Regions from separate parts of the Homo sapiens genome. Here region 2 is linked to region 1. The links come from fine-mapping of genetic effects on gene expression. A gene starts in region 1. The other region holds a variant in brackets. All regions are shown on one strand. Distances are between the middles of the regions.

Region 1 (11,408 bases):
AGGCAGGTGGATTGCTTGAGGCCAGGAGTTTGAGACCAGGCTGGGCGACACAGTAAGACCCCATCTCTACAAAAAAAAGAAAGAAAGAGAGAGAGAAAGAAAGAGAGAGAGAGAGAAAGAAAGAAAGAAGGAAATAGAGAGAGAGAGAGAAAGAAAGAGAGAAAGAAAGAAAGAAAGAAAGAAAGAAAGAAAGAAAGAAAGAAAGAAAGAAAGAAAGAAAGAAATGGGCCAGGTGTGATGGCTCATGCCTGTAATCCCAGCACTTTGGGAGGCCAAGGTGGGAGGACTGCTTGAGCTCAGGAGTTCAAGACTAATCTGGGTAAAATGGTGAAACCCCGTCTCTATAAAAAGTAAAAAAATTGGCCAGGCATGGTGGTGCATACCTGTAGTCCCAGCTACTTAGGAGGCTGACTGGGGAGGATTGCTTGAGCGCAGCAGGCAGAGGCTGCAGTGGGCTGTGACTATACCACTGCACTCCAGCCTGGGCGACAGGGTGATTCCCAGTCTCAAACAACAACAAAGCCTGGGCGCAGTGGCTCACGCCTGTAATCCTGGCACTTTGGGAGGCTGAGGCAGGTGGATCACGAGGTCAGGAGTTCAAGACCAGCCTGGCCAGGATGGTGGAACCCCGTCTCTACTAAAAATACAAAAAATTAGCCGGGTGTGGCGGCGGGTGCCTGTAGTCCCAGCTACTCGGGAGGCTGAGGCAGAGAATTACTTGAACCCGGGAGGTGGAGGTTGCAGTGAGCCAAGATCGCGCCACTGCACTCCAGCCTTCTTGTCAACGGAGCGAGACTCCGTCTCAAAAACAACAAGAACAACAACAGCAGCAGCAACAAAAAGTACTCGTCACGTACCTACAGTTGAATTTTAACTGGGTGTCTTGTGTTTGATCTGGCAACCCCACTTCCACAATTCTCTCGAAGGGGCTGGGAAGACATTTAGGAGGACCTGTATGGGATGGGGAAGAGGGAGGGTTTAGGGAGGAGAGTGTTGACGTCAAACACAGCCCCACCAGAAAACCTCCACAAATGTACAACTCTGTCCCCCAGGAGAGCTCTCCACCCTTCACATGGCACCGAGGACCTGGGCCTGGGCCAGAGCTGGAAGCCTGAGAGCTCTCTGCGGGGTGGGACTACTGGGGGACGGGGCTATCCACACCTCTGACCAGTTGAGCGTCTCCCCTGGGGGGCGGCTTCCAAAGTCTGAGCCAGGAGAGCTGGTGCCGGCCAGGGCCCTCACCCCATCTCTGCCCATCTGTGGCGTCAAAAATGCCTCCTCTCTTGAACTCCAACTGCAGCATTCATCCTTATTATTTTCTCATTGAACATCCACTTCAGTGACGCCATGGACTGGGCCGAGGAAAATCAAGAATTTCCCTAGGGTGGCTCAAGCCTGGAATCCCAGCAATATGGGAGGCCAAGGCAGGCGGATCACGAGGTCAAGAGCTCGAGACCATCCTGGTCAACATGGTGAAACCCTGCCTCTACTGAAAATACAAAAATTAGCCGGGCATGGTGGCACGTGCCTGTAATCCCAGCTACTTGGGAGGCTGAGGCAAGATAATCACTTGGACCCAAGAGGCAGGGGTTGCACTAAGTTGAGCTCATGCCCCTGCACTCCAGCCTGGGTGAAAGGGCCAGACTTCGTCTCAAAAAAAAAAAAAAAAAGAATTTCATTTGGAAATATTCGTAGTGGTTAAATTCTATTAGGCACTGTCTGTCCATTGAGTTGTCTGAACAACCTAGCAGCTAGTTGCTATTATTATTATTATCATTATTATTATTTTTTTTGAGACAGAGTCTTGCTCTGTTGCCCAGGCTGGAGTGCAGTGGTGCGATCTCAGCTCATTGCAACCTCCGCCTCCCGGGTTCAAGCGATTCTCCTGCCTCAGCCTCCGGAGTGGTTGGGACCACAGGTACGTACCATCATGTCCGGCTTATTTTTGTATTTTTAGTAGAGACAGGGTTTCACCATGTTATCCAGGATGGTCTCAATCTCTTGACCTCGTGATCTTCCCGTCTCAGCCTCCCAAAGTGCTGGGATTACAGGTATAAGCCACCGTGCCCGGCCACTAGTTGCTATTATTATCACCCTCCCCATTTTATAGGTGGGAAAACCGGGGCACAGAGAGGTTAAGTAACTCTCCTTGGGTCACACAGCAGATTCACAGCACTGTACTCCAGGCTGGGCCATGAGCCCCAGTACTGTGTCCCTGCTGCTTTCCGGAGCCACCCCCTGTGATTCCCTGGAAATCCCCGCATCTGACTAATTCCCTAAGCATCCCCCAACTTGGCAGATTCCTGCCTGCTGAGATGGCTGGACCCACCCCGGCCTGGGCAAACTGCCCCCACTTTAGGCAAAATCACCCATCGAGACCTTGTGGTTTCCCGAGGTGGATGTGGCAGAGATCGAGCCCACGCCTCTTCCTAGCTCACTTGGTGACCTCAGGGCAGCTTCTGAACAGTTCGTGCCTCAGTTTCCTCCCTCGTGAAATGCAGGTAATACCAGTCGCTACCCCAGAGGGCCGCTGTGGGAGCAGGGCCGGCGTCGTGGGTGTGTGTGACTCGGGGCTTCGCCCACCGCCTGCACTCAGAAGGTCCCGGCGCTCAGCGTGATGCTTTGCTGTTGCCTAACCCAAGCTATGAAATATGTTTTGTGCCGGGGCACCGTGTTTTCATTTCCACTGATCCTCAAAAGTTGTGTGGATGGTCCAGTGTGGGAGGAAATGAGCAGATGCAGCCGCCACCCTCCAGTCCCCAGGCTGGCTTCCTCACCCTTCCAAATCTTTAGTGCCTATTGCTCAATTTAACTGCTGTTCAATTTGCTGTGAAAAGAGTCTCAGCCAGGCACGGTGGCTCATGCCTGTAATCCCAGCACTTTGGGAGGCCGAGGCAGGCAGATCACCTGAGGTCAGGAGTTTGAGACCAGCCTGACCAACATGGAGAAACCCTATTTCTACGGAAAATACAAAATTAGCTGGGCATGGTGGCACATGCCTGTAATCCCAGCTACTTGGCAGGCTGAGGCAGGATAACCACTTGAACAGGGGAGGAGGAGGTTGCAGTGGGCCAAGATTGCGCCAATGCACTCCAGCCTGGGCAACAGGAGTGAAACTCCATCTCAAAAAAAAGAGAAAATAGTCTCAAAGTTGAGATGAGCACCCAGTTTGCCAAAACCGGGAGGCAGAGGTCATGCCATTGCACTCCGGCCTGGGAGACACAGCAAGACTCCATCTCAAAAAAAAGGAGATTTGGCCGGGTGCGTTGGCTCACGCCCGTAATCCCAGCACTTTGGGTGGCCGAGGCGGGCGGATCACGAGGTCAGGAGATCGAGACCATCCTGGCTAACACGGTGAAACCCCGTCTCTACTAAAAATACAAAAAATTAGCCGGGGTGGTGGCGGGCGCCTGCAGTCCCAGCTACTCAGGAGGCTGAGGCAGGAGAATGGCATGAACCTGGGAGGTGGAGCTTGCAGTGAGCTGAGATTGCGCCACTGCACTCCAGCCTGGGCGACAGAGCCAGACTCCGTCCCAAAAAAAAAAAAAAAAAAAAGAGATTCAGTGTGGAGGGAAGTATCTCTGTCGGGTCCGGCTGCTCTGCGGGACTCTGAGGAAAAGCTCACAACAGGTGGACGCCGTTCTGTCACCATGGGTAAAGGAGACCCCCAATGAGCTGAAGGACAAAATGTCCTTGTGCGCCTTCTGCATCTCACTCTGGACATATCACTTCTGCCTTCTGGGTCTGAGTTTCCCCATCTGCCCCCTTGTGCTTTTGGGTTTGATGACAGGGGTCCTTGGCCTGAAATTTTTTTTTTTTTTTTTTTTTTAGACGGGGTCTTGTCATGTCACCCAGGCTGGAGTGCAATGGCGCGATCTCAGCTCACTGCAACCTCCGCCTCCCAGATTCAAGTGATTCTCCTGCCTCAGCCTCCTGAGTAGTCAGGATTACAGGCACCCACTACCACGCCTGGCTAATTTTTGTATTTTTAGTAGAGACAGGGTTTCACCATGTTCGTCAGGCTGGTGTTGAACTTCTGACCTAGGTGATTCACCCACCTCAGCCTCCCAAAGTGTTGGGATTACAGGCGTGAGCCACCGTTTTTTGTTTGTTTGTTTTTTTGAGACCGAACCTCACTCTATCGCCCAGGCTGGAGTGCAGTGGTGTGATCTCAGCTCACTGCAACCTCTACCTCCTGGGTTCAAGCGATTCTCCTGCCTCAGCCTCCCTAGTAGCTGGGAATACAGGCAGGCACCACCATGCCCAGCTAACTTTTTTGTACTTTTAGTAGAGATGGGGTTTCACCATGTTGGCCAGGCTGGTCTCAAACCGCTGACCTCAGGTGTTCCTCCTGCCTCAGACTCCCGTAGTGCTGGGATTACAGGCGTGAGCCACCGTGCCTGGCTTTTGGCCTCAGTTTTTTAGAGAGGTGCTAAAATATCTTAAACCTGCTTATTATCTGCCTTACCAGGCCTTCTTTGCCCGGACTGTTCTTCCTACTCTTGTCTACCTGGTACACTCCTACTTGAACTTCAAAACCCCAGCTTCAACACACTCTTCAGCATGCAGCCCTCTATGAAGCCCTAGGCAGACATTTCAACCCTCCCAGAGATCCCGCATATTGGAGTGTCTGGTCCTGGTTCTCTCTCCCCTAGACCAGGGGCTTTCTGATGTTGGGACAGACAGCTGAGTCCTCTGTGAGACCCTGGGTTTTCCCAGCTCATGACCAAGCACAGAGCAGCATCGATTAGAAGTCACTGAATGAATTAACAAAGTCATGGAGAAATCAACTCTAGTTTCAGGGGGTTGGAATGGGGGCAGAGGCCTCTGGCTTGTGGCTGCTTGGGTCCAGGGAGCTGTATCAGTATTGTCATGGCTGAAATTGGGCTGGGGAGGCGGTGGTGCCTCCCACACTGGATCTGCCTTCACTGGCTCAAGTCACAGGAAAAGTGCCCTGAGACTCCAGCTCCCCACGCAGGGCAGCCTCCCACCACAGCCACCGAGAGGAGGAGCCCCTCAGGCCCCCGTGGCCCTGCCTGAAAGGATCCTGCTCTCTTGGGGGTAGCCCCTGGGACTTACCCAAACCCCCATGTGCCAGTCACCATGCTGAAGCGTCCAGAACTGTATTTGGTTAGGGAGAGAGATTAATGAACAGAGATAACTTTTCGTGAGAGAGTATGTCTGACAGGCCCAGAGGTGATGATTTTATTTCATTTTATTTTATTTCGTTATTTATTTATTTATTTTTGAGATGGAGTCTCACTCTGTTGCCCGGGCTGGAGTGCAGTGGTGCGATCTCAGCTCACTGCAATAACTACCTCCCAGGTTCAAGCGATACTACTGCCTCAGCCTCCTGAGTAGCTGGGATTACAGGTGCCCGCCATCACGCCCAGCTAATTTTTGTATATTTAGTAGAGACGGGGTTTCATCATATTGTCCAGGTTGGCCTCAAACTCCCGACCTCAAGTGATCCATCCGCCTCAGCCTCTCAAAGTGCTGCGATTACAGGCGTGAGCCACTGCGCCCGGCTGGTGATCGTCTTAGTAGCTTTTGAGGGAGTCTCAGTTTAAAAGTCTCGGGTGAGTGAGCCCCAGTGGGGGACGTGGCACATGCAGAGGCTTGGAGGGGGTTCTGAGGAAGGAGGAAAAAAGGGGATGCTGTACCACAAAGCAGATTCCATTTCACCAGCACGGTGCAGAAGAGGAAACTGAGGCTTGAGGAGGTGAAAGCACATGCTGGGGTCTCAAGAGAACCAGGCAGGGCGGGATTCGAACCCAGAGCCGTAGGAGTCCCAGCCCCTTCCGAATAGCGGAAGGACCTCAAGGGATTGGCTTGGAAGGTGGCCCCGCCCCCGAACCGAGACCACGCCCCCGCAGGTGGAGGCCCCGCCCCGCGGCATGACCGGAAGTGCGCGGGGCCCCCAAGATGGCGCCCGAAACCCGGAAGTGAGCGGCGGCAGCTGCGAGGCTCGGAGAAACAGGCGCCGCGGGCTCCGCGCCCGGCCGGACCCGGGCCCGAGGTGAGGCTCTGGTTGCGACCCCCGCCCCGGCTCCACCGCGACCCCTGCCTGGCCCGACCCCGCTTGTGGGTCCGGCGCTCCCCGCGGACCCCTGCGCCCGGGGCTGGGGGTTCTGGGGGCCGTGGGGCGGGGGCGAGCGCGGCGGGACCCCCGCCCTCCGCCGCGACCCCTTCCGACCCCGCCCTTCGCCGCCAACGTTGACCCCGCGCTGCCCCGCGACCACCGCCGTGAACCTTGACCTGCCCCCCCGCCCCCCGGCGACCCCCTGCCGTGAACCTTAACCCTACCTTCCACGACAACCCTCCCAACCTTTCCTTCCCGCTCTTCCGGGTGACTCCCTGTACCGCGCAGCTTGGTGACCCCCGACCTTTCGTTTTCTGGTAACCCTTGACCCCGCACTCATCGGTGCCCCCGAGCCCCTTGGTGACCCCGCACCCGCTTTTCCTCGGTATCCTGGCCTTCCCTTTTGGGGACTCTCGACTCCATGCGCCTCGTGACCTCGACCCCTTCCTGGGAGTGACCCCCGGTCTCTCCCGCCGCCCCGATTCCTGACTCCAGGCTCCTCGGGCGTTCGTGCCCCTTCCTCCTCCTTGTCCCCGGTCCCAGGACCCTTGCCTTCTCGGCCCCGCAGCGCAGCCCTGTCTCCCTCCCTCCCCTTGCTCCCCGCCCCTCCCGCTCCTGGGGCCTCCGACTTCTCTTCTGGGGCAGATGGTTTTTCGGTTTCTGCATGGAGGTCCCCCGGTTTGGGATGGGGGCTTGCTGATATTAGGTGACCCCGGGGCCGTCTGGGCGGAGTCTGCAGAGCGTGTTGGGGGTGGGAGTGCGGGTCGCATTCAAACCCGGCTTCCAGGGACAGGCGGGAGGGAGGGTAGCGGGCTGAGATGGCCCGAGTGGGGCCCGGGAGCAGCGTGTGTCGGTGAAGGGGAAGCGCAGGCCTCCTGGTGGGTCCTGTCCCCCGTAGGGCACTCTTCCCACCACCCCAGAGTCCCGAAGAATAAGGCAGGTGGGGCCTGGAGGGACCAATCCCCAGACTGACCTGGGGCGTGGGGGGCAGGCGTTGTGGAGAGCCCACCCAGCGCCTCCAGGGACGCCGGGCACGGATGGTGCTGGGGCAGGGACGGTGGGTGTCTCCCTGGATGAACTGATTAACATTCTGAAAAGTTAAAAAAAAAAAAAAAAAATCTCTTAAATGTGTAGCCGGGGCCTCCCCTGGCTGCTTCTTCCCGGAATGCCTGTTGTTCCCGCCTGCTCAGAACGTCCTTCCTGCCTGTGACTGCTGGGACGGGACGGGATAGGTTTGGTGCCATCTGTTGCACGCCCTGTCAGCGAGAGTGCCCGGCCTCGGAGCTGGCCTGTGCTGATGCTGGCTGCCAGTTTGCCGGGGCGGGGGGGGCGGTTGCAGTGAGTGTTTTACAGAGGGGCAGAGGAAGCCGAGGTTCAAGAGAAGAGCATGGGAGGGGCCGAGGACCCAGGGCCGCAGACCCCGTGGGCAGCCAGCCCGATTACACGGGGATTACAGGCTTCAAACTTTCTTCCAGGCCTCTTCCTCCGGGCCAGGGCAGCCGGCACTGCTTCCTGACTGAGGGGTGCTGTGCTGTTTCGGGTGCCCTCCCTGGGATGTCTCTCCCTGACTCGGCCCTGGAAGAGGAGCAGCGGGGACATGGGACCCAGAGAGTTTGTGGCAGGCCCAGCAGGTGCCGTCCACGCCCTTTCTTCCCAGACATCCTCTGGCCTTCAGGGATCTGGCTGCCCGGCCCCAGATTTTCCCAGGGGTGACCCTGGTCGTGGGGTGATGGCTTCTCACAGTGGCCTGCTCCGGGCCACCTTCAGAGTTCTTGCCGAGAAAGGGCGAATTTGAGATCTGGACCCCTTGGTGGGTGGGATGGAGAACAGCAGGATGGGGGCCTCAGGGCCTCCCACGGCAGGGGAGACGGCAGAGGAGACGCAGGCAGGCTCTCGTCCTTGGAGAGGGAAGGACTTGGAAGGCGCCTGCCAGCCCCTGGAGTGTGATTTCAGAGCACAGGGAGGAGGCTTTTGTTTAACTCTGAGGATCCCGGCAGACATCTGCCCACACCTGCCAGGAGCCAGGAGGGCCCTGGTGTGGAGGGGGCTGTGCAGGCAGGGGCTGGACTTCAGGGGGAGGGAGCCTGTCAGAGCACAGAAGAGGCAGCAGGAGCTTCCCTCATCCATTCACTCTCAGTTTGCTTTGGGGTCTGGCCTCTCCGTTCATCCATTCACTCTTGGTTGGCTTTGGAGTCTGGGCTAGACAGGAGGCACCCAGGTGTGCAGGTGCGGAGGAGAGGGTGCATGTTCTCCAGCCGCGTGACCATGGGCAGTCACTGCCCTCTCACCTGGCGGGGAAACCGAGGTGGAGAGAGGTTGCGCCAGCCACCCCTAGACCCCCCACCCACTTGCTGCCTAAGGCCTCCCCCAACCCCAGGGGTGTGAGGGGTGTGACCAGCTTGGGCTTGGCCCAACCCGGCTCCAGCGGAGTCACGGATGCCCCTCCGGCAGGGCCCATGCGGAAACGCCAACACCGCCAGAGTGAGCTCTGCCCCGAACAAAGAGGCGACTGTGTCGACAGAACCAGTCCGGCTCCCAGAGGCCCCCTCCCAGGGGGCCCCCATGCTGGGGGGTGGGATCAGCTCTGGGAAGGGGGCGGTATCATGTAATCCACAGCTGTAAACACTCCTGGAGGCGGTGTGGAGGCAGCCCCCCATGACGCCAGCGCTGCCCTGGGGACTCTGCATGTGTGTGTACACGTGTCTTTGTGTATCTGTATGTTGCGCCATGTGCATGCACATGTGTGTTGTGTGCCTGTGTGTTGTATGGATGTGTGTATTCTTTGTGTGCATTGTACGTACGCACGTGCATTCTGTGTGTGCGTCGTACGGACGTGTGCGCGTTCTGTGTGTGTGTTGTACGGATGTGGGTGCGTTGTGTGTGTGTGAATGTGCGTGCCTGTGGCTGTGTGCTCCTGTGCATGTGTGTGTTGCTCGTGTGTTTCATACGCGTGTGTTTTATGGGTGCACATTGTGTGCGTGTCTGTGCATCCGTGTTTGTGTGTTGTGTGTGCCTGTGCACCCGTGTTTGTGTTGTGTGTGTGCCTGTGTGTACCCATGTTCATGAGTCGGTTATGTGTGTCTGTATTTTGTGTGTTGCCCGTGCCTGTGTGCCTGTCCTCGTATGTTGTGTGTGTGTATTTTGGTGGTTGTGTGTATTTTGTGTGTGTGCTCATGTGTGTGTTGCCTGTGCCCATGTGCCCATGCTTGCGTGTGTTGCTCACACATGTATTTTGTGTGTGTTTGTGTTGTGGGTGCATGTGTATGACCTTTGCACCCGTGCTCATGCAAACGTGTACTTTGTGTGCATGTTGTGTGTGCCCGCATGTTGCCTGTGCACCTGTGTCCGTTATGCACGTGTCCGTTGTGTGTGTTGTGTGCGTGCTGCGTGTTCTCATGCACCCCTGCTTGTGCATGTCTTGTGCACGTGTGTTTTGTATGTGTGCGTGTGTTGTGTGCACGTGTGTGGCCTGTCCCTGTGTGCATGTGTGTGTGATTTGTTGCGGGCAGGCCTGGAATACCTCCAGTCACTTTTTCCACAGCCGAGGGCTGTGTGGTCAGACAGCACACGGGGAGGGCTGGGTGTGTCCAGCTGCCGGGTTGAAGCCTAAAAGCGAGGTCACCCCAACCTGGTTCTCGTCCTGGCCTGCCCGCTGTCCGCCCGGCAGTGTGGGTGGACTCTCAGCCTTGCCCCTCGCCTCTGCACTCTCGCCCCCAACCCCCGGGAGGTTGGCCGGCACCTGCACCCTCGGGCTGGGACGAAGAGCAGACTGCCAGCCCCGTGGTCACCTTGCCTCCCTGCTGGGAGGTGTGGTCACCCGTCACAGGGCCCAGGACTCAGGAGAGGGCTCAGCCCTGCGGGCGAAGGCAAACCTGGGGTTCTGGCCAAGACGGGGATTTCGGATGCGTGGGCCCCATCAGCTCTCGCCCTGGGCCTCCTGGGCCCCGTGAGGAGGCGGAGATTAGATCTGTCGTCTGTGCGCCCGGCATGGATGCTCTGCGGAGACGTGCTTGCGGAGAGACGCCAGACGCAAAAGGCCACGGCACGTGACTCCGTTCATGTGACGTGTGCAGAGCAGGGCAGTCCACAGATGGGGGGTAGACGTGTGGTCACGTGTCCAGAGCAGGCCAGTCCACAGAAGAGAAGTGGGCGTGTGGTTGCAGGGGCTGTAGAGGCGGGGGAGTGACTGCTGTTGGGGACACGGCTGTGTTTTGGGGGAGCGGAATGTTTTGGAATTAGAAGCTGTGGTGGTCTGCCTTAGAATACGTTGAAACCGTTGAGTCATATGCTCCGGACAGGTGCCCCTCCTGGTGTGGATTGTATCTCAGGGAAAATAAAAGTGTTTAACAGAAAGTAAGACCTCCCTGTCCTTCGGAATCCCCAGTTGTCACCACAGGGTTGAGCACGGTGTCCCCGGGAACTGGTCAGGCAGCCTGCAGCCAGCTTGCATCAAGGGGTGATGGGCAGCTGTCCTGTCTCAACCCGTAGGACGGCAACAGTGATGGCATCACCCCACCCCCCGGGGGCCCCTCGCCCAGGCCCAGCTCTGCCCCTGAACCACTCACTGCTTCGGAGGGGCAGGGAATGCTGCATTCTACTCGAAGGGGCCCTACGGGGCTCTTGGCATGAGGGGGACAGGCCTTGGGCCACATGGGTGGCACACAGGGGCCAGTCAGCCTGAGGGTGCCTGGTGGTCCAGGCGGAGGCCCCGTGAGAGCTCAGCATGGCAGCGTGGCCCTGAAGCTCAGTCCCACGGAGGCCTCAGCCTGGGGCCGCACTCGTGCCCTGTGCCCTGGCTCTCCTGCGGATTCCCCTGGGCCTCTTGCCCTGGACAACCCCATGAGTGATGGGGTGGGAGGAGGGGCCCAGAGAGTCATTGCCGAGTCATCTCCCCTGCAGGCACTGTCCCGGGCAGCCTCGTGCAGTGCAGGGCATGGGAGTGCTGGGCCCTGGCTGGGGTCAGCAGATCGGACTGGCGGGCCTGGTGCCGCTGTCTCAGTGACCTGCTTTGTGACTCGTGCCCGTGCTTCCCGGAGCCTTGTGATTGACCTCCATCCCCAGCAAGAACAAGCGTCCAAGTGAAACCGAAAGAGGCGGCCTTGGCCTTGGTTCCAGGCCCCGCTGCGTTTTGAAAGTGATGTGCGCCAGGTTCCGGAAGGCGGCTCACTCGCGTTTCCTGGGAGTCTCTGCCGCTGTGGGCTCCTGGGGCCAAGGCCCTGGGTGCTGGGGCGTGGGGAGGGGGAGCCGGTGAGCCTTCGGGCCTGGCGGGCAGTAAACGTTTCTGGAACTGACTCACTTGCTGGGGAGGGGCAGCCAGGGAGGGTCA
Region 2 (11,408 bases), 42 kb after region 1:
CCTGCTCCAGGCCCAGCCCAGCCTCGCGGCCCCACCCCCAGGCTCTCCGGCACCTGTTTCTGTGTGGGGTGAGTGTCCCCCAGGGCAGCCCCTGGTGCCTCTTCTGGTCTCCTCCCCACCACACCCCAGCCCGAGCCTCCCCCCACCGCACCCCAGCCCGAGCCTCCCCCCAGCCTGAGCCTCCCCCCACTGCACCCCAGCCCGAGCCTCCCCCCACCGCACCCCAGCCCGAGCCTCCCCCCACCGCACCCCAGCCCGAGCCTCCCCCCACCGCACCCCAGCCCGAGCCTCCCCCCACCGCACCCCAGCCCGAGCCTCCCCCCAGCCTGAGCCTCCCCCCACTGCACCCCAGCCCGAGCCTCCCCCCACTGCACCCCAGCCCGAGCCTCCCCCCACCGCACCCCAGCCCGAGCCTCCCCCCACCGCACCCCAGCCCGAGCCTCCCCCCACCGCACCCCAGCCCGAACCTCCCCCCACCGCACCCCAGCCCGAGCCTCCCCCCAGCCTGAGCCTCCCCCCACTGCACCCCAGCCCGAGCCTCCCCCCACCGCACCCCAGCCCGAGCCTCCCCCCACCGCACCCCAGCCCGAGCCTCCCCCCACCGCACCCCAGCCCGAGCCTCCCCCCAGCCTGAGCCTCCCCCCACTGCACCCCAGCCCGAGCCTCCCCCCACTGCACCCCAGCCCGAGCCTCCCCCCACTGCACCCCAGCCCGAGCCTCCCCCCACCGCACCCCAGCCCGAGCCTCCCCCCACCGCACCCCAGCCCGAGCCTCCCCCCACCGCACCCCAGCCCGAACCTCCCCCCACCGCACCCCAGCCCGAGCCTCACCCCCCCAGCCCGAGCCTCCCCCCACTGCACCCCAGCCCGAGCCTCTCCTCCACTGCACCCCAGTGCCAGCCTCCCCCAACCGCACCCCGGCCCGAGCCTCCCCTCACCGCACCCCGGCCCGAGCCTCCCCCCACTGCACCCCGGCCCGAGCCTCCCCCCACCGCACCCCGGCCCGAGCCTCCCCCCACCGCACCCCGGCCCGAGCCTCCCCCCACCGCACCCCGGCCCGAGCCTCACCCCAGCCTGAGCCTCCCCCCACTGTACCCCAGCCCGAGCCTCTCCTCCACTGCACCCCAGTGCCAGCCTCCCCCAACCGCACCCCAGCCCAAGCCTCTCCCCAGCCTGTGCCCCTACACAGGACATTCCCCAGGTCCTGCTCGCCTCACTGCCCCTCGCCCATCCCTTGCCGCCTGTTCCTGGGGTGGGGGTGCTCCTTCACCCTTCCTGACATCACCCAGATCCCTTGCGTCTCTGCTGGGCTCCTGGGGCTCTCGGCACCCACAGCCCATCCCCATTCCCCAGGTGCTGCCCCCTTGCCCACCACCTGTCCTGTGAGGACCTCTCCACCTGCCGGGCATCCATCCCGGGTCCCCATGGGGCTGCAGGGACCATTGGGAACGCAGCTGTCCGGTAACAACACTCTCTGCCTGGCAGCCCGGGGGCTTCTGGGAAGCTCAGGATGAGCTCACGGCTCAGAAAAGCGCTTTGCAAACTCTGGCTGCTTTCAGGCAGGGAGGCAGGCAGCATTGACTGTTCTGCAGATGCGTTTCAGCAGGGGTCAGATGCCTCGGCCCATCCGGCACCACGGAGCCCCCACAGTTACTGGCATTGGGCAAAAAAGAGGGAGAGAGATGAGGGAGCGAAGGAGGGAGAGGGAGAGGGGGATTTCTTACAGGAAGTCTTTGGTTCACACCCAGCCAAGGCCAAGAAGAGCCACCTTCTGTCCCCTGGTCTGTGCTGAGGCCACAGCCCCCCCGGGAGGAGGAGCCTCCGCCCAGGGCCTGGGCAGGTGCAGGAGGGGCCGGCAGAGCCGCCCACAGACAGCCTTAGAGAGGGAGACTCAGCAGGAAGCTGTGCGCCAGGGTTCGGCCCTGCCCGGCTGCAGCACCAGAAGACACTGAGGCGGCGGCCCCAGGGCCCATACCAGGCACCTGGCCGGAACCCTGACAGAAGGGAGCCCAGTTTCCTGGGGAGCCGTGCCAGCCTCCCAGGGCTGCTGTGAGGAAGCAGCACACACAGCTTCAAAGGCCAGGACTCTGTCCCCTCCCAGCCCTGGAGCCTGGAAGTCCAAAGTCAAGGTGCGGACAGGGCCGCGCTCCTTCCGGCCCCTCCAGCATCTGGGGGATCCGGGCATCCCCTGGCTGTGGCCGCAGGGCTGGGATCTCTGCTTCTGTGTCCCGTGGCCTCCTCCCCGGGACTGTGTCTCCTTCGAATGAGGACACCAGGCACAGAACACCCGCTCGGCCAGTGCGGCCTTTTTTTTTTTAACCACTCACATCTGCAAGGACCGGATTCCCAAATAAGGCCACACACACAGCTTCCAGGTGCCAGGACATGATCACACCATTTTGGGGACACAGTTCAGCTCTGCACGGGGCACTCTAGTGACCAGGCCTGCTGAGGGGCCCTTCTCCCAGCCACCAAAGACTGGCAGTGTCTAGGAAGTGCCACCTGTGCCCCACGACCACCTGGAAGCCTCTTCTGTCTGCCCCCCAGCCCCCTCCAGGAGGAGCCCCTCCCATCCCCGTAGCCTGTTTCCCTCCCTGTAATGCAGGGCAGGGTTCCTGTGAGGGCTGAGGCAGCGGGCATTCAGCCAGGCTTACACGGAGCCCTCGGTCAGCGTTGCTGCGGGACTGGTCAGTGAGGGGTGCACCCTGGACAGAGGCGGAGGGAGAGACCGGGCCACGGGAGCCCAGGACTGGGCGCGGGGCGCCGGAGGTGGGTGGGGTAGTGCCCAGCAGGTCCCTAGGCGGCGCACCCCTATCCTCAGTCTGACCTGCTCCAGGGACCCTGGGCTGTGCTGTCACATTGGGGCCTGGGGAGCAAGTCGGAGTCTGTGCTTGTTCTTTCTGTTTCGTTGCTTTCCAGGTCTTTTAAAAACTGAGACAAAATTCACATACCACAAAATCCACTTTATTTATTTGAGACAGTATTTTGCTCTGTTGCCCAGGCTGGAGTGCAGTGGTGTGATCATAACTTACTGCAGCTTCCACCTCTCTAGCTCAAGTGATTCTCCTGCCATGGCCTCCTGAGCAGCTGGGACCACAGGTGCCCGCCACCATGCGCAGCTGGTTTTTGTATTTTTTGTGGAGATGGGATCTCACTATGTTGCCCAGGCTGGTCTTGAACTTCCTGGGCTCAAGCTGTTTGCCCACCTCAGCTTCCCAAAGTGCCGGGATGGCAGGTGTGAGCCACTACGCTCGGCCAAATCCACCTTTTTTTTTTTTTTTTTTTTTTTTGAGACAGAGTCTTGCTCTGTTGCCCAGGCTAGAGTGCAGTGGCACGATTTCAGCTCACTGTAACCTCTGCCTCCCGGGTTCAAGCAATTCTCCTGCCTCAGCCTCCCGAGTAGCTGGGATTGCAGGTACCCACCACCACACCTGGCTAATTTTTGTATTTTTAGTAGAGACGGGGTTTCACCATGCTGGCCAGGCTGGTCTTGAACTCCTGACCTCGTGATCCACCCACCTCGGCCTCCCAAAGTGCTGGGATTACAGGCGTAAGCCACCGTGCCGGGCCCAAATCCACACTTTAAAAAAGTATATTCACAGAGTTGTGCAACCACCACCTCTGTCTAGTTCCAGAACATTCCATCATCCCACAGGAAGCCCCGTTCCCATCAGCTGTCACTCCCCAGCCCATCCCCACCCCCTGATAACCTGAATGCTTTTCCTGTCTGTGTGGATTCCTGTTCAGGACAGGACATTTCATAGAAATGGCCTCACACACTGCGTGGCCTTCTGTGTTTGGCGTCTTTCACTGAGTGTGAGGTCCTCAAGGTGCATCCGTGCTGTGGCTTGGGTCAGAGCCTTGCTCCTTTTCATGGCTGGGTCGTGTTCCAGTGTGTGGACGGCCTCACTGTGCTGGCCCTGTTCCTCCGTGGTGACTGCGCTGCAGGAGCCAGGCTGTCATGAGCTGTGGGTCCACCTGGGAGCTGAGGGTCCACCCGGGAGCTGTGGGTCCACCCGTGAGCTGTAGGTCCTGTGAGCTGTGAGTCCACCCGTGAGCTGTGGGTCCAGGTGCCTATGAGCTGTGAGTCCACCCGTGAGCTGTAGGTCCTGTGAGCTGTGGGTCCACCTGTGAGCTGTGAGTCCACCCGTGAGCTGTGAGTCCACCCGTGAGCTGTGAGTCCACCCGTGAGCTGTGGGTCCTATGGGCTGTGGGTCCACCCATGAGCTGTGGGTCCAGGCGCCTATGAGCTGTGGGTCCACCCATGAGCTATGGGTCCTGTGAGCTGTGAGTCCACCCTTGAGCTGTGGGTCCTGTGGGCTGTGGGTCCACTCCTGAGCTGTAGGTTCAGGCTTTTGTGAGCTGTGGGTCCTCCTGATGGCACGTGGGAGTGCAGCTGCTGGGTTGTTACTCCCCATTCGCCTCTTTTGAGGAGCTGCAGGATGGTTCCCAGGCCACTGCCCCGCGTCCTCAGCAGCGCTTGTGGTTGTGGGTTTTTTGCGTGGAGCTGGTGTGGAGCTGTCTCTGGGAGTGGCTGTGATTGGCTGCTGGGTTGAGCGGTGGCTGTGATTGGCTACTGGGTTGAGCGGTGGCTGTGATTGGCTGCTAGGTTGAGCGGTGGCTGTGATTGGCTGCCGGATTGAGCGGCTCCGTGGGTTTCTTCCCCATTGGTTGTTTTCCATTGGCGGGCGGGGTGCCTGGCAGGCGGGCCCCTCGCCCCAGCGGCACGGACCCGTGTTGTCGCCCAGCCTCCAGGAGGTGATGGGTCGTGGCAAGGGGTGTGGGCGACAGTCTGCACCAGCCTCCGCTGCTGCGGTGCCTGGTCGCGGGGCCCCAGTGGGGCTGGCACAGGGCCTCAGGGTCTAGAACAGGGTGAGCCCGAGGGGGCGGAGTGCACAGGGTTTGAGGGCCCCCTGGTCCCACTCTCCCCTCAGAGCCCTGGCGGGAGTCTTACAAGCCCAGAACTGTCCCGAGCCCTCCGGCCCAGCCACGGGCTCCCCTGGCCTCTCGGGGCGGTTTCCTTCTTTCCCAGGGCCCCTGGCCACAGGGCCGGGCCCTTCCTCCCCTCACAGAGGAGGAGCCGTGGCCACCTGCGCGGTCTCGGCCGCGGTCTCGTGGGCAATGCGGCCTCTGCCCCGTCAGTCGCTGAGTACAGGCAGATGGGGCCCGTCCTCTCCACAGCCCGGCCGTCCTCCCACCCCCTCTGGCCCTGGGGCCTCCCCAGCTCCTCCAAGGACACCGAGAATGACCGCCTGTGGCCCAATGTGAGGTCCCATCAGGTGTCTGCCCCGCGGTGTCTAGGCCCCTGTGATGCGCCAGGGTCCTCACAGTGCGGGCAAGAGTGTGGCCGCGGGCGGGCTCGCGGCCCGGGGTTGCCCCAGCAAGTGCATCATTGACACTTGGTTTTCTACCAAAGCGAGAACGTTCTTTTCCCAGGACGCTACCACTTGTTCCTGCCCAGGGGGCCGAGGCCGGGTCTGGCCAGAGCCTGGAGAGGAGGGGCCCAGGCTCAGCTCTCCCTCCGCCAGCCCCAGATCAAGGGAGGCCACGGGGCCCGCTGAACCCCCTGGGCACGGACAGCAGGGAAAGAGCAGGGAGGGGACTTTGCTTCGGCGGCAGGGGCTTCTCGGGGACCTCAGCCTGCAGGGGTGGGGTGGGGAGAGCCCCAGGGGGGCGCAGCAGGGCCTGAGGTGCGCTTGGCATGCGTGGGGTGCTGGGTGAAGGGAGGCGGTCTTGGCCGCAGTTTCCCTGCCTGTGGTTTGGGGGCACCAGGAACAGCAGCTGGTCCCCGTGGAACGGAACCCAGCTCCCTGCAGTCTGGGGAGACCGAGGCCCATGCCCACCTGGGCATTCTGCACGTCCGCCGGGTGCCCCAAAGGGGGCTGGTCCTGCGGCGGGGCACGGGTGGGG[T/G]TGCGTGTTGACAGCGCCTGTGGGAGATCCGCCCCGTACAGTAATTCTCCTCGCACTGCCGGTAATTGCCCTGACTTACGGGGCCGGCATCATTTCCTGAAAGTCAGCCCCGGCCTTAGAGGAAGTAGGCGCCGGCGGCGGTGACTAAACCGACATGCAAATGCAGCCGGGCGGAGAGCCGCCCCCGTCCGCCCCGGCCGACCCAATGCTGGGGCTGCTGCCGCGGTCATGAGGGAGCCGCTCCCGGGCAGCGCTTCCTGGGGGACCCCTGGCCCCCCGAGCGCCGGGACCATGTCCCAGCTGCAGCTGTGGCTGCAGTTTGAGGCTCTGAACAAGGTAACACTCCCTTCCCGGGGCGGGCGAGGCCCTCGGGGGCAGGGGTCTGGGAGGTGGGACCCCATTCAGGACGGCCGGGCCCCCTGCCGGAGCAGCCGGCATCTCATCCTAGAGTCCGAGGCCGCCAGGATCTAAAAAAATCCCCACCCCGCCCCGTCCGTCTCTTCTGGCAGTGAGAGGGAATCTGCCGGAAGGTTCCGAGGCAGAGATTTAAGACTTCGGGCTGGGAGCGGCGCCCTGTGCGTAGGCTGGGGGACCCGAGCGGAGTGGGGGGGTCGGGCTCAGCCCTGCCCGGACGGGGGCCCTCAGTGACAGTGGCAGTGGCTGTCGGGAGGGCTGCGTCCCCCTCCTTCTGCCCCTGGGGTAGGACCCAGAGCTGTGGCTTTCCTCTGGAGAAGCCTCAGGTGGAGGGGCTCTGGGTGTCTTATGGGGCTCTTGTAGGGAGCGGAGGCTGGGTGGGCCTGGTCAGGGCTGGCTCTGGTGGCGCAGGCCGGCAAATCCCTGTGGCTCTGTGGCTCCCCATGGGTCCTGGAGCACAGGGCAGCGGCAGCACATCAGGTCTGGAGTCAGTTCTGGAGTCAGGTCTGGAGTTGGCTGCCCAGGGCAGGAGGAGCTGTGTCTGCTGCTTTTGAAGCGGGCAGAGCCAGGTCCTCCCAGCCAGGTCCTCCCAGCTCCCCACCTCAGCCCAGGGCTCCTGAAATGCTACAGAGACAAGAACCACAGCGGGCAGCCCCGGCCCTCCCTGGGGCCCCAGAACTGGGGGCTGGCGGGGAGGGATGCAAGTGTCACCCTTGAGGGGCCTTGGTGCTTGCCCTCACTACAGACTGCAGAGGGGCCCGGTTCCCTGGGGAGGCACTGGGTCCGCTGAGCTGAGGCTGGAGGGTGGGTGGGTCATGTGGTGAAGGATGCAGGAGCCTGGGCCGGCCTGGAGGGGCTGTGGAGGGACACACAGGCGCGGGTGGGACTTAGGCTGTCTCTGAGGTGAGCTGGTGGCTGCTAGGAGTCAAATCCAGATGTGGGCAGAGGACGGAGCCACTGTGGGGGGAGCTGGCCTGGCTCTGTTCAGCTTCCCACATGTGAACAGGGCCAGCCCTGGGAACCCCGTCTCCCTCTGTCCCTAATCGCTGAGGGCACCTGCTAGAAGTGAAGGCTTCGAGGGCTCATGCACCTGGTGGGGTGTCCTGTGCTGGGAAGGACCGGACGGGGAGCAGGGCGGGGCCTCGAGGCTGCGTTCTTGAAGCCTGAAAGCTGCAAGCACTCCCTCATTATTAGACTTTCACTTTTATTTATTTGTTTTTGTGACAGGGACTTGCTCTGTCACCCAGGCTGGTGTGCAGTGGCACGATCTCGGCTCCCTGCAACCTCCACCAACTGGGTTGAAGCAATCCTCCCACCTCAGCCTCCTGAGTAGCTGGGACTGCAGGCACATGCTGCCATGCCCAGCTAATTTTTAAACGTTCTGTAGACATGGAGTCTTGCTGTGTTGCCCAGGCTGGTCTTGAACTCCTGGGCTCAAGTGATTCTTTCACCTTGGCTCTAAAACAGTAGGATTACAGGCATGAGCCACTACGCCCTGCTTGACTTTTAACTTTTTTTTTGAGATAGGGTCTCGCTCTGTCTCCCAGGCTGGCGTGCAGTGGCGCAATTATAGCTCACTGCAGCCTCGACCACCTGGGCTCAACGGATCCTCCTGCCTCAGCCTCCTGAGTAGCAGACGTGAGCTCCCCCCTGCCCGACTTGACTTTAACTTTTCAAACTGTTTTAGAATGACAGAAAAGCTGCAGGGACAGTGCAGAGAGTCCCCGTGCACCCACTCCCGGGCTCCCTGCTGTTCTATCTCCCGTCTGTGGCTGTCACGGCTGATGAACCAACATCCGTACGCCACCGTTAACTCCTGAGGCCCACGCTTTGCTTGGATTGCCTCAGTTTCCCCCATGTCCTTTCCTGCCCAGGACCCCACGTGGTGTTTAGGCGTCTCCTCAGGCCCCTCTGGGCTGTGATGGTTTCTCAGAGGCCCGTGTTTCAGATGCGTTGGGCGGTCCTGGGGCTGGTCGGGTGGTGTGGATGCCCTGGAGTAGTCGGGCTGGTGTTTCCTCAGACTGGGGCAGGAGTTTTGGGTGGAGGACCCTGGGCGGGAGGACCCTGTTGTCCTGTCTTCTTGGGCCAAGGGCACCTGGTGAGGGCGTGGGGCAGGTGTCTCTGCCTGAGGTCCCTTCCCTCTGTCCACGCTGAGCTCCGGGGAAGGACTGGCCGTGTGACCCACGCATTTGGGTTTGGGGAGCTCTCCTCCGCTCTGCCTGCGCTCCCTGCACCACCAAGGCCTGGGCGGTTCTGGGCCCGATAGCAACTCACCCCCGCTCCTGGCTGGGGCCTTGACCAACTCAGGAGCCCCTGACCTTGCCCGGGAAATGCTTCCACGGAGGGTCCGGGCCACAGGTCAGCGTGACCAGGCCCTCTGCAGCCTGGGTGGGCAGTGTCCGGAGGGCCCTCGTGGGCCTCAGTGGGATGAATGCTCCCCAACCCTGCCGATCGGGGCCTCCAGAGGCTCTGGGAGGTGGACTGCTCCTACCCTCCTGGGGTGGGGGGTGCTGCACCCTACCTGGCTCTGGGCCTCAGGCGGGCAGCATGGACACCTCTGTCCCGGGGGTCTCTGTTTGGGGGCAGGTTCCTGAAGGTCCCTAGTGATCAGTGCCCAGGTGCTTGGGTCTGACAGGGTGGGCAGTGGGCAAAGCTGAGCAAGGTGAGGGGGACGGAACCCACAGCTTCCAGGGAGAGACAGCGCCCCCTTGACATGCCTGGTTTTTTTCTTTGTTTGTTTTTCTTGAGATGGAGTCTCCCTGTGTCACCCAGACTGGAGTGCAATGGCACGATCTCAGCCCACTGCAGCCTCTGCCTCCTGAGTTCAAGCAGTTCTCCTGCCCCAGCCTCTCGAGTAGCTAGGATTACAGGCACGCACCACCATGCCCAGCTAATTTTTGTGTTTTTAGTAAAGACAGGGTTTTACCATATTGGTCAGGCTGGTCTTGAACTCCTGACCTCAGGTGATCTGCCCACCTTGGCTTCTCAAAGTGCTGGGGTTACAGGCGTGAGCTACCATGCCCAGTCTATTTTTTTTTTTTTTGAGACAGAGTCTTGCTCTGTCACCCAGGCTGGAATGTAGTTGTGCAGTAACAGCTCACTGCAGCCTTGACCCCTCTGGGCTCAGGTGATCCTCCCGCCTCAGCCCCCCGAGTAGCTGGGACTACGGGCATGCACCACCACACCCAGCTAATTTTTGTATTTTTAGTAGAAATGGGGTTTTGCCATATTGTCCAGGCGAATCTTGAACTCCTGGACTCAAGCAATCTTCCACCTTGGCCTCCAAGTGCTGGGATTACAGGCGTGAGACATCACATGTGGCCGGACACGGTGGCTCACGCCTGTAATCCCAGCACTTTGGGAGGCCAAGGTGGATGGATCACCTGAGGTCAGGAGTTCGAGACCAGCCTGACCAACACGGTGAAACCCCGTCTCTACTAAAAATACAAAAATTAGCTGGGCGTGGTGGCACGTGCCTGTAATCCCAGCTACTCGGGAGGCTGAGGCAGGAGAATCGCTTGCACCTGGGAGGCAGAGGGTGCAGTGAGACGAGATCACACCATTGCACTCCAGCCCGGGCGACAGTGTAAGAATCCGTCTCAAAAAAAAAAAAATGAAATGATGTACATACATCTCCTTCACTGGGCAGCGCGTGTGTGTGTGTCATCCCCATGGCGAGCCCCACCTCTGGGCGTGGCTGCCCCCGCCCCTGCCTCCGGCACAGGGCATGGCACCAGGCTCACCCCAGACCCGAGCTGCTCAGAGTTCCTGCAGCATTGCTGCCCTTCAGGTGCTGCAGAAGTCAGACGCCGTCCTGCGTGGCCCTGAGGGTTGGTGTTTCTCACCCATTGCTTGTTTATTTTTTTCTTTTTTGAGACGGAGTCTCACTCTCTCGCTCTGTCACATGGTGGCTCACGCCTGTAATCCCAACACTTTTGGATGCCGAAGCAGGCAGATCACTTGAGGTCAGGAGTTCAAAACCAGGCTGGCCAACATGGTGAAACCCCGTCCCTAGTAAAAATACAAAAAAATTAGCTGGGCATGGTGGCGCACACCTGTAATCCCTGCTACTTGGGAGGATGAGGCAGGAGAATTGCTTGAACCTGGGAGGGCCGTGGTGTCTCCCATTCCCACATGCTCCAGTGTGTGGAGGGCCGTGGTGTCTCCCATCCCCACGTGCTCCAGTGCGTGGAGGGGCCTTGGTGTCTCCCGTACCACCCTCACCGGGCCTGGCCTTGTCTTCCAGGACTCCTCCTATTTTGAGGACTTCTCCAACATCTCCATCTTCTCCTCGTCCGTGGACTCCCTGTCGGACATCGTGGACACGCCCGACTTCCTGCCGGCTGACAGCCTCAACCAGGTGTCCACCATCTGGGACGATAACCCTGCCCCCTCCACCCACGATAAGGTCAGTGCGCCCGGTGCCCCCAGCCAGCCCCGACCCACCAGCGTGGCCTCCCCAGCCCGGGACCCACACGGTCCAGTGAGGTCTCAGTCTCCCCCACTCTGCGTGCCAATGGCTGTGCCTGTCACTGTCGGCGCCATCTGTGGCCATGGATGAGGTGGTTAGTTGAGGGTCCTCTTGTGTCCTGAATAGGAGAAGGCGACGTCCAGGACATCTGTGGCTACCACATCTGGGCGGTGCTCCTGGCATGGAGTTGGGGGGGGCCAGGATGCTGCCCAGCGCCCTGCAGTGCCCATTATGGCCCCACCTGAGAGGGACCCTGCCCCGTGTCCACCGCACCCGGGGAGTCCCTGGTCTAGAGAAGCACAGGAAGGTGACGGGACAGAGAAGCGTGGTCAGGAAGGGCCCCCTGGAGAGGCAGCGCCCAGCGGGCCCAGGCAATGTGGCTGTCCAGGCAGAGGAACAGCACCTGTGGTGGCATCCAGCCCCATGGTGCCTGGGTCAGCAGTGGCCGTGTCCCCGCTAGTGGGGAGCTGAGAGGGCGAGGTTGGTGGATCCTGTCCCAGGGTGGGGAGCTGGACATTGTCCGTGGGGGCTGAGGGGCTGGGGTTTGCCTCCAAGAAGCTCCTGAAGGACCTGGGTGGGCCAGGCCTAGAGCAGGGGTTGTAGGGCAGCAGGGC

Which allele goes with the higher level. Positions count from the first base shown, and alleles are read on the strand shown. Sizes are in standard deviations (SD) of each study's normalised expression.
With allele G in place of T in region 2, the expression in monocytes after Pam3CSK4 of the gene that starts at base 5,923 in region 1 is lower (moderate effect, 0.49 SD a copy in Quach 2016).

What was found.
Region 2: its variant is fine-mapped to the expression of SBNO2 in monocytes after Pam3CSK4 (Quach 2016, PIP 0.92).

Annotation. Positions count from the first base shown.
Region 1 is chr19:1,168,783-1,180,190 of GRCh38, reverse strand. SBNO2 (strawberry notch homolog 2) reads left to right here and starts at 5,923. Exons shown (of 32, transcript NM_014963.3): 1 at 5,923-6,019. It overlaps LOC102725180 (collagen alpha-1(VII) chain), which reads right to left and starts at 11,358. Exons shown (of 3, transcript XR_005647046.2): 1 at 9,955-11,358; 2 at 6,307-7,172; 3 at 5,198-5,631. RefSeq lists enhancers at 1-221, 1,608-2,807, 5,563-5,612, 6,997-7,555 and a silencer at 5,753-6,062.
Region 2 is chr19:1,126,927-1,138,334 of GRCh38, reverse strand. SBNO2 (strawberry notch homolog 2) reads left to right here. Exons shown (of 32, transcript NM_014963.3): 5 at 10,570-10,731. Among named protein-coding and RNA genes, the nearest start is that of GPX4, 29 kb to the right of the region's middle. RefSeq lists enhancers at 3,628-4,127, 4,128-4,629, 4,648-5,311, 6,640-7,304. The variant T/G (reference allele first, on the strand shown) is at 5,910.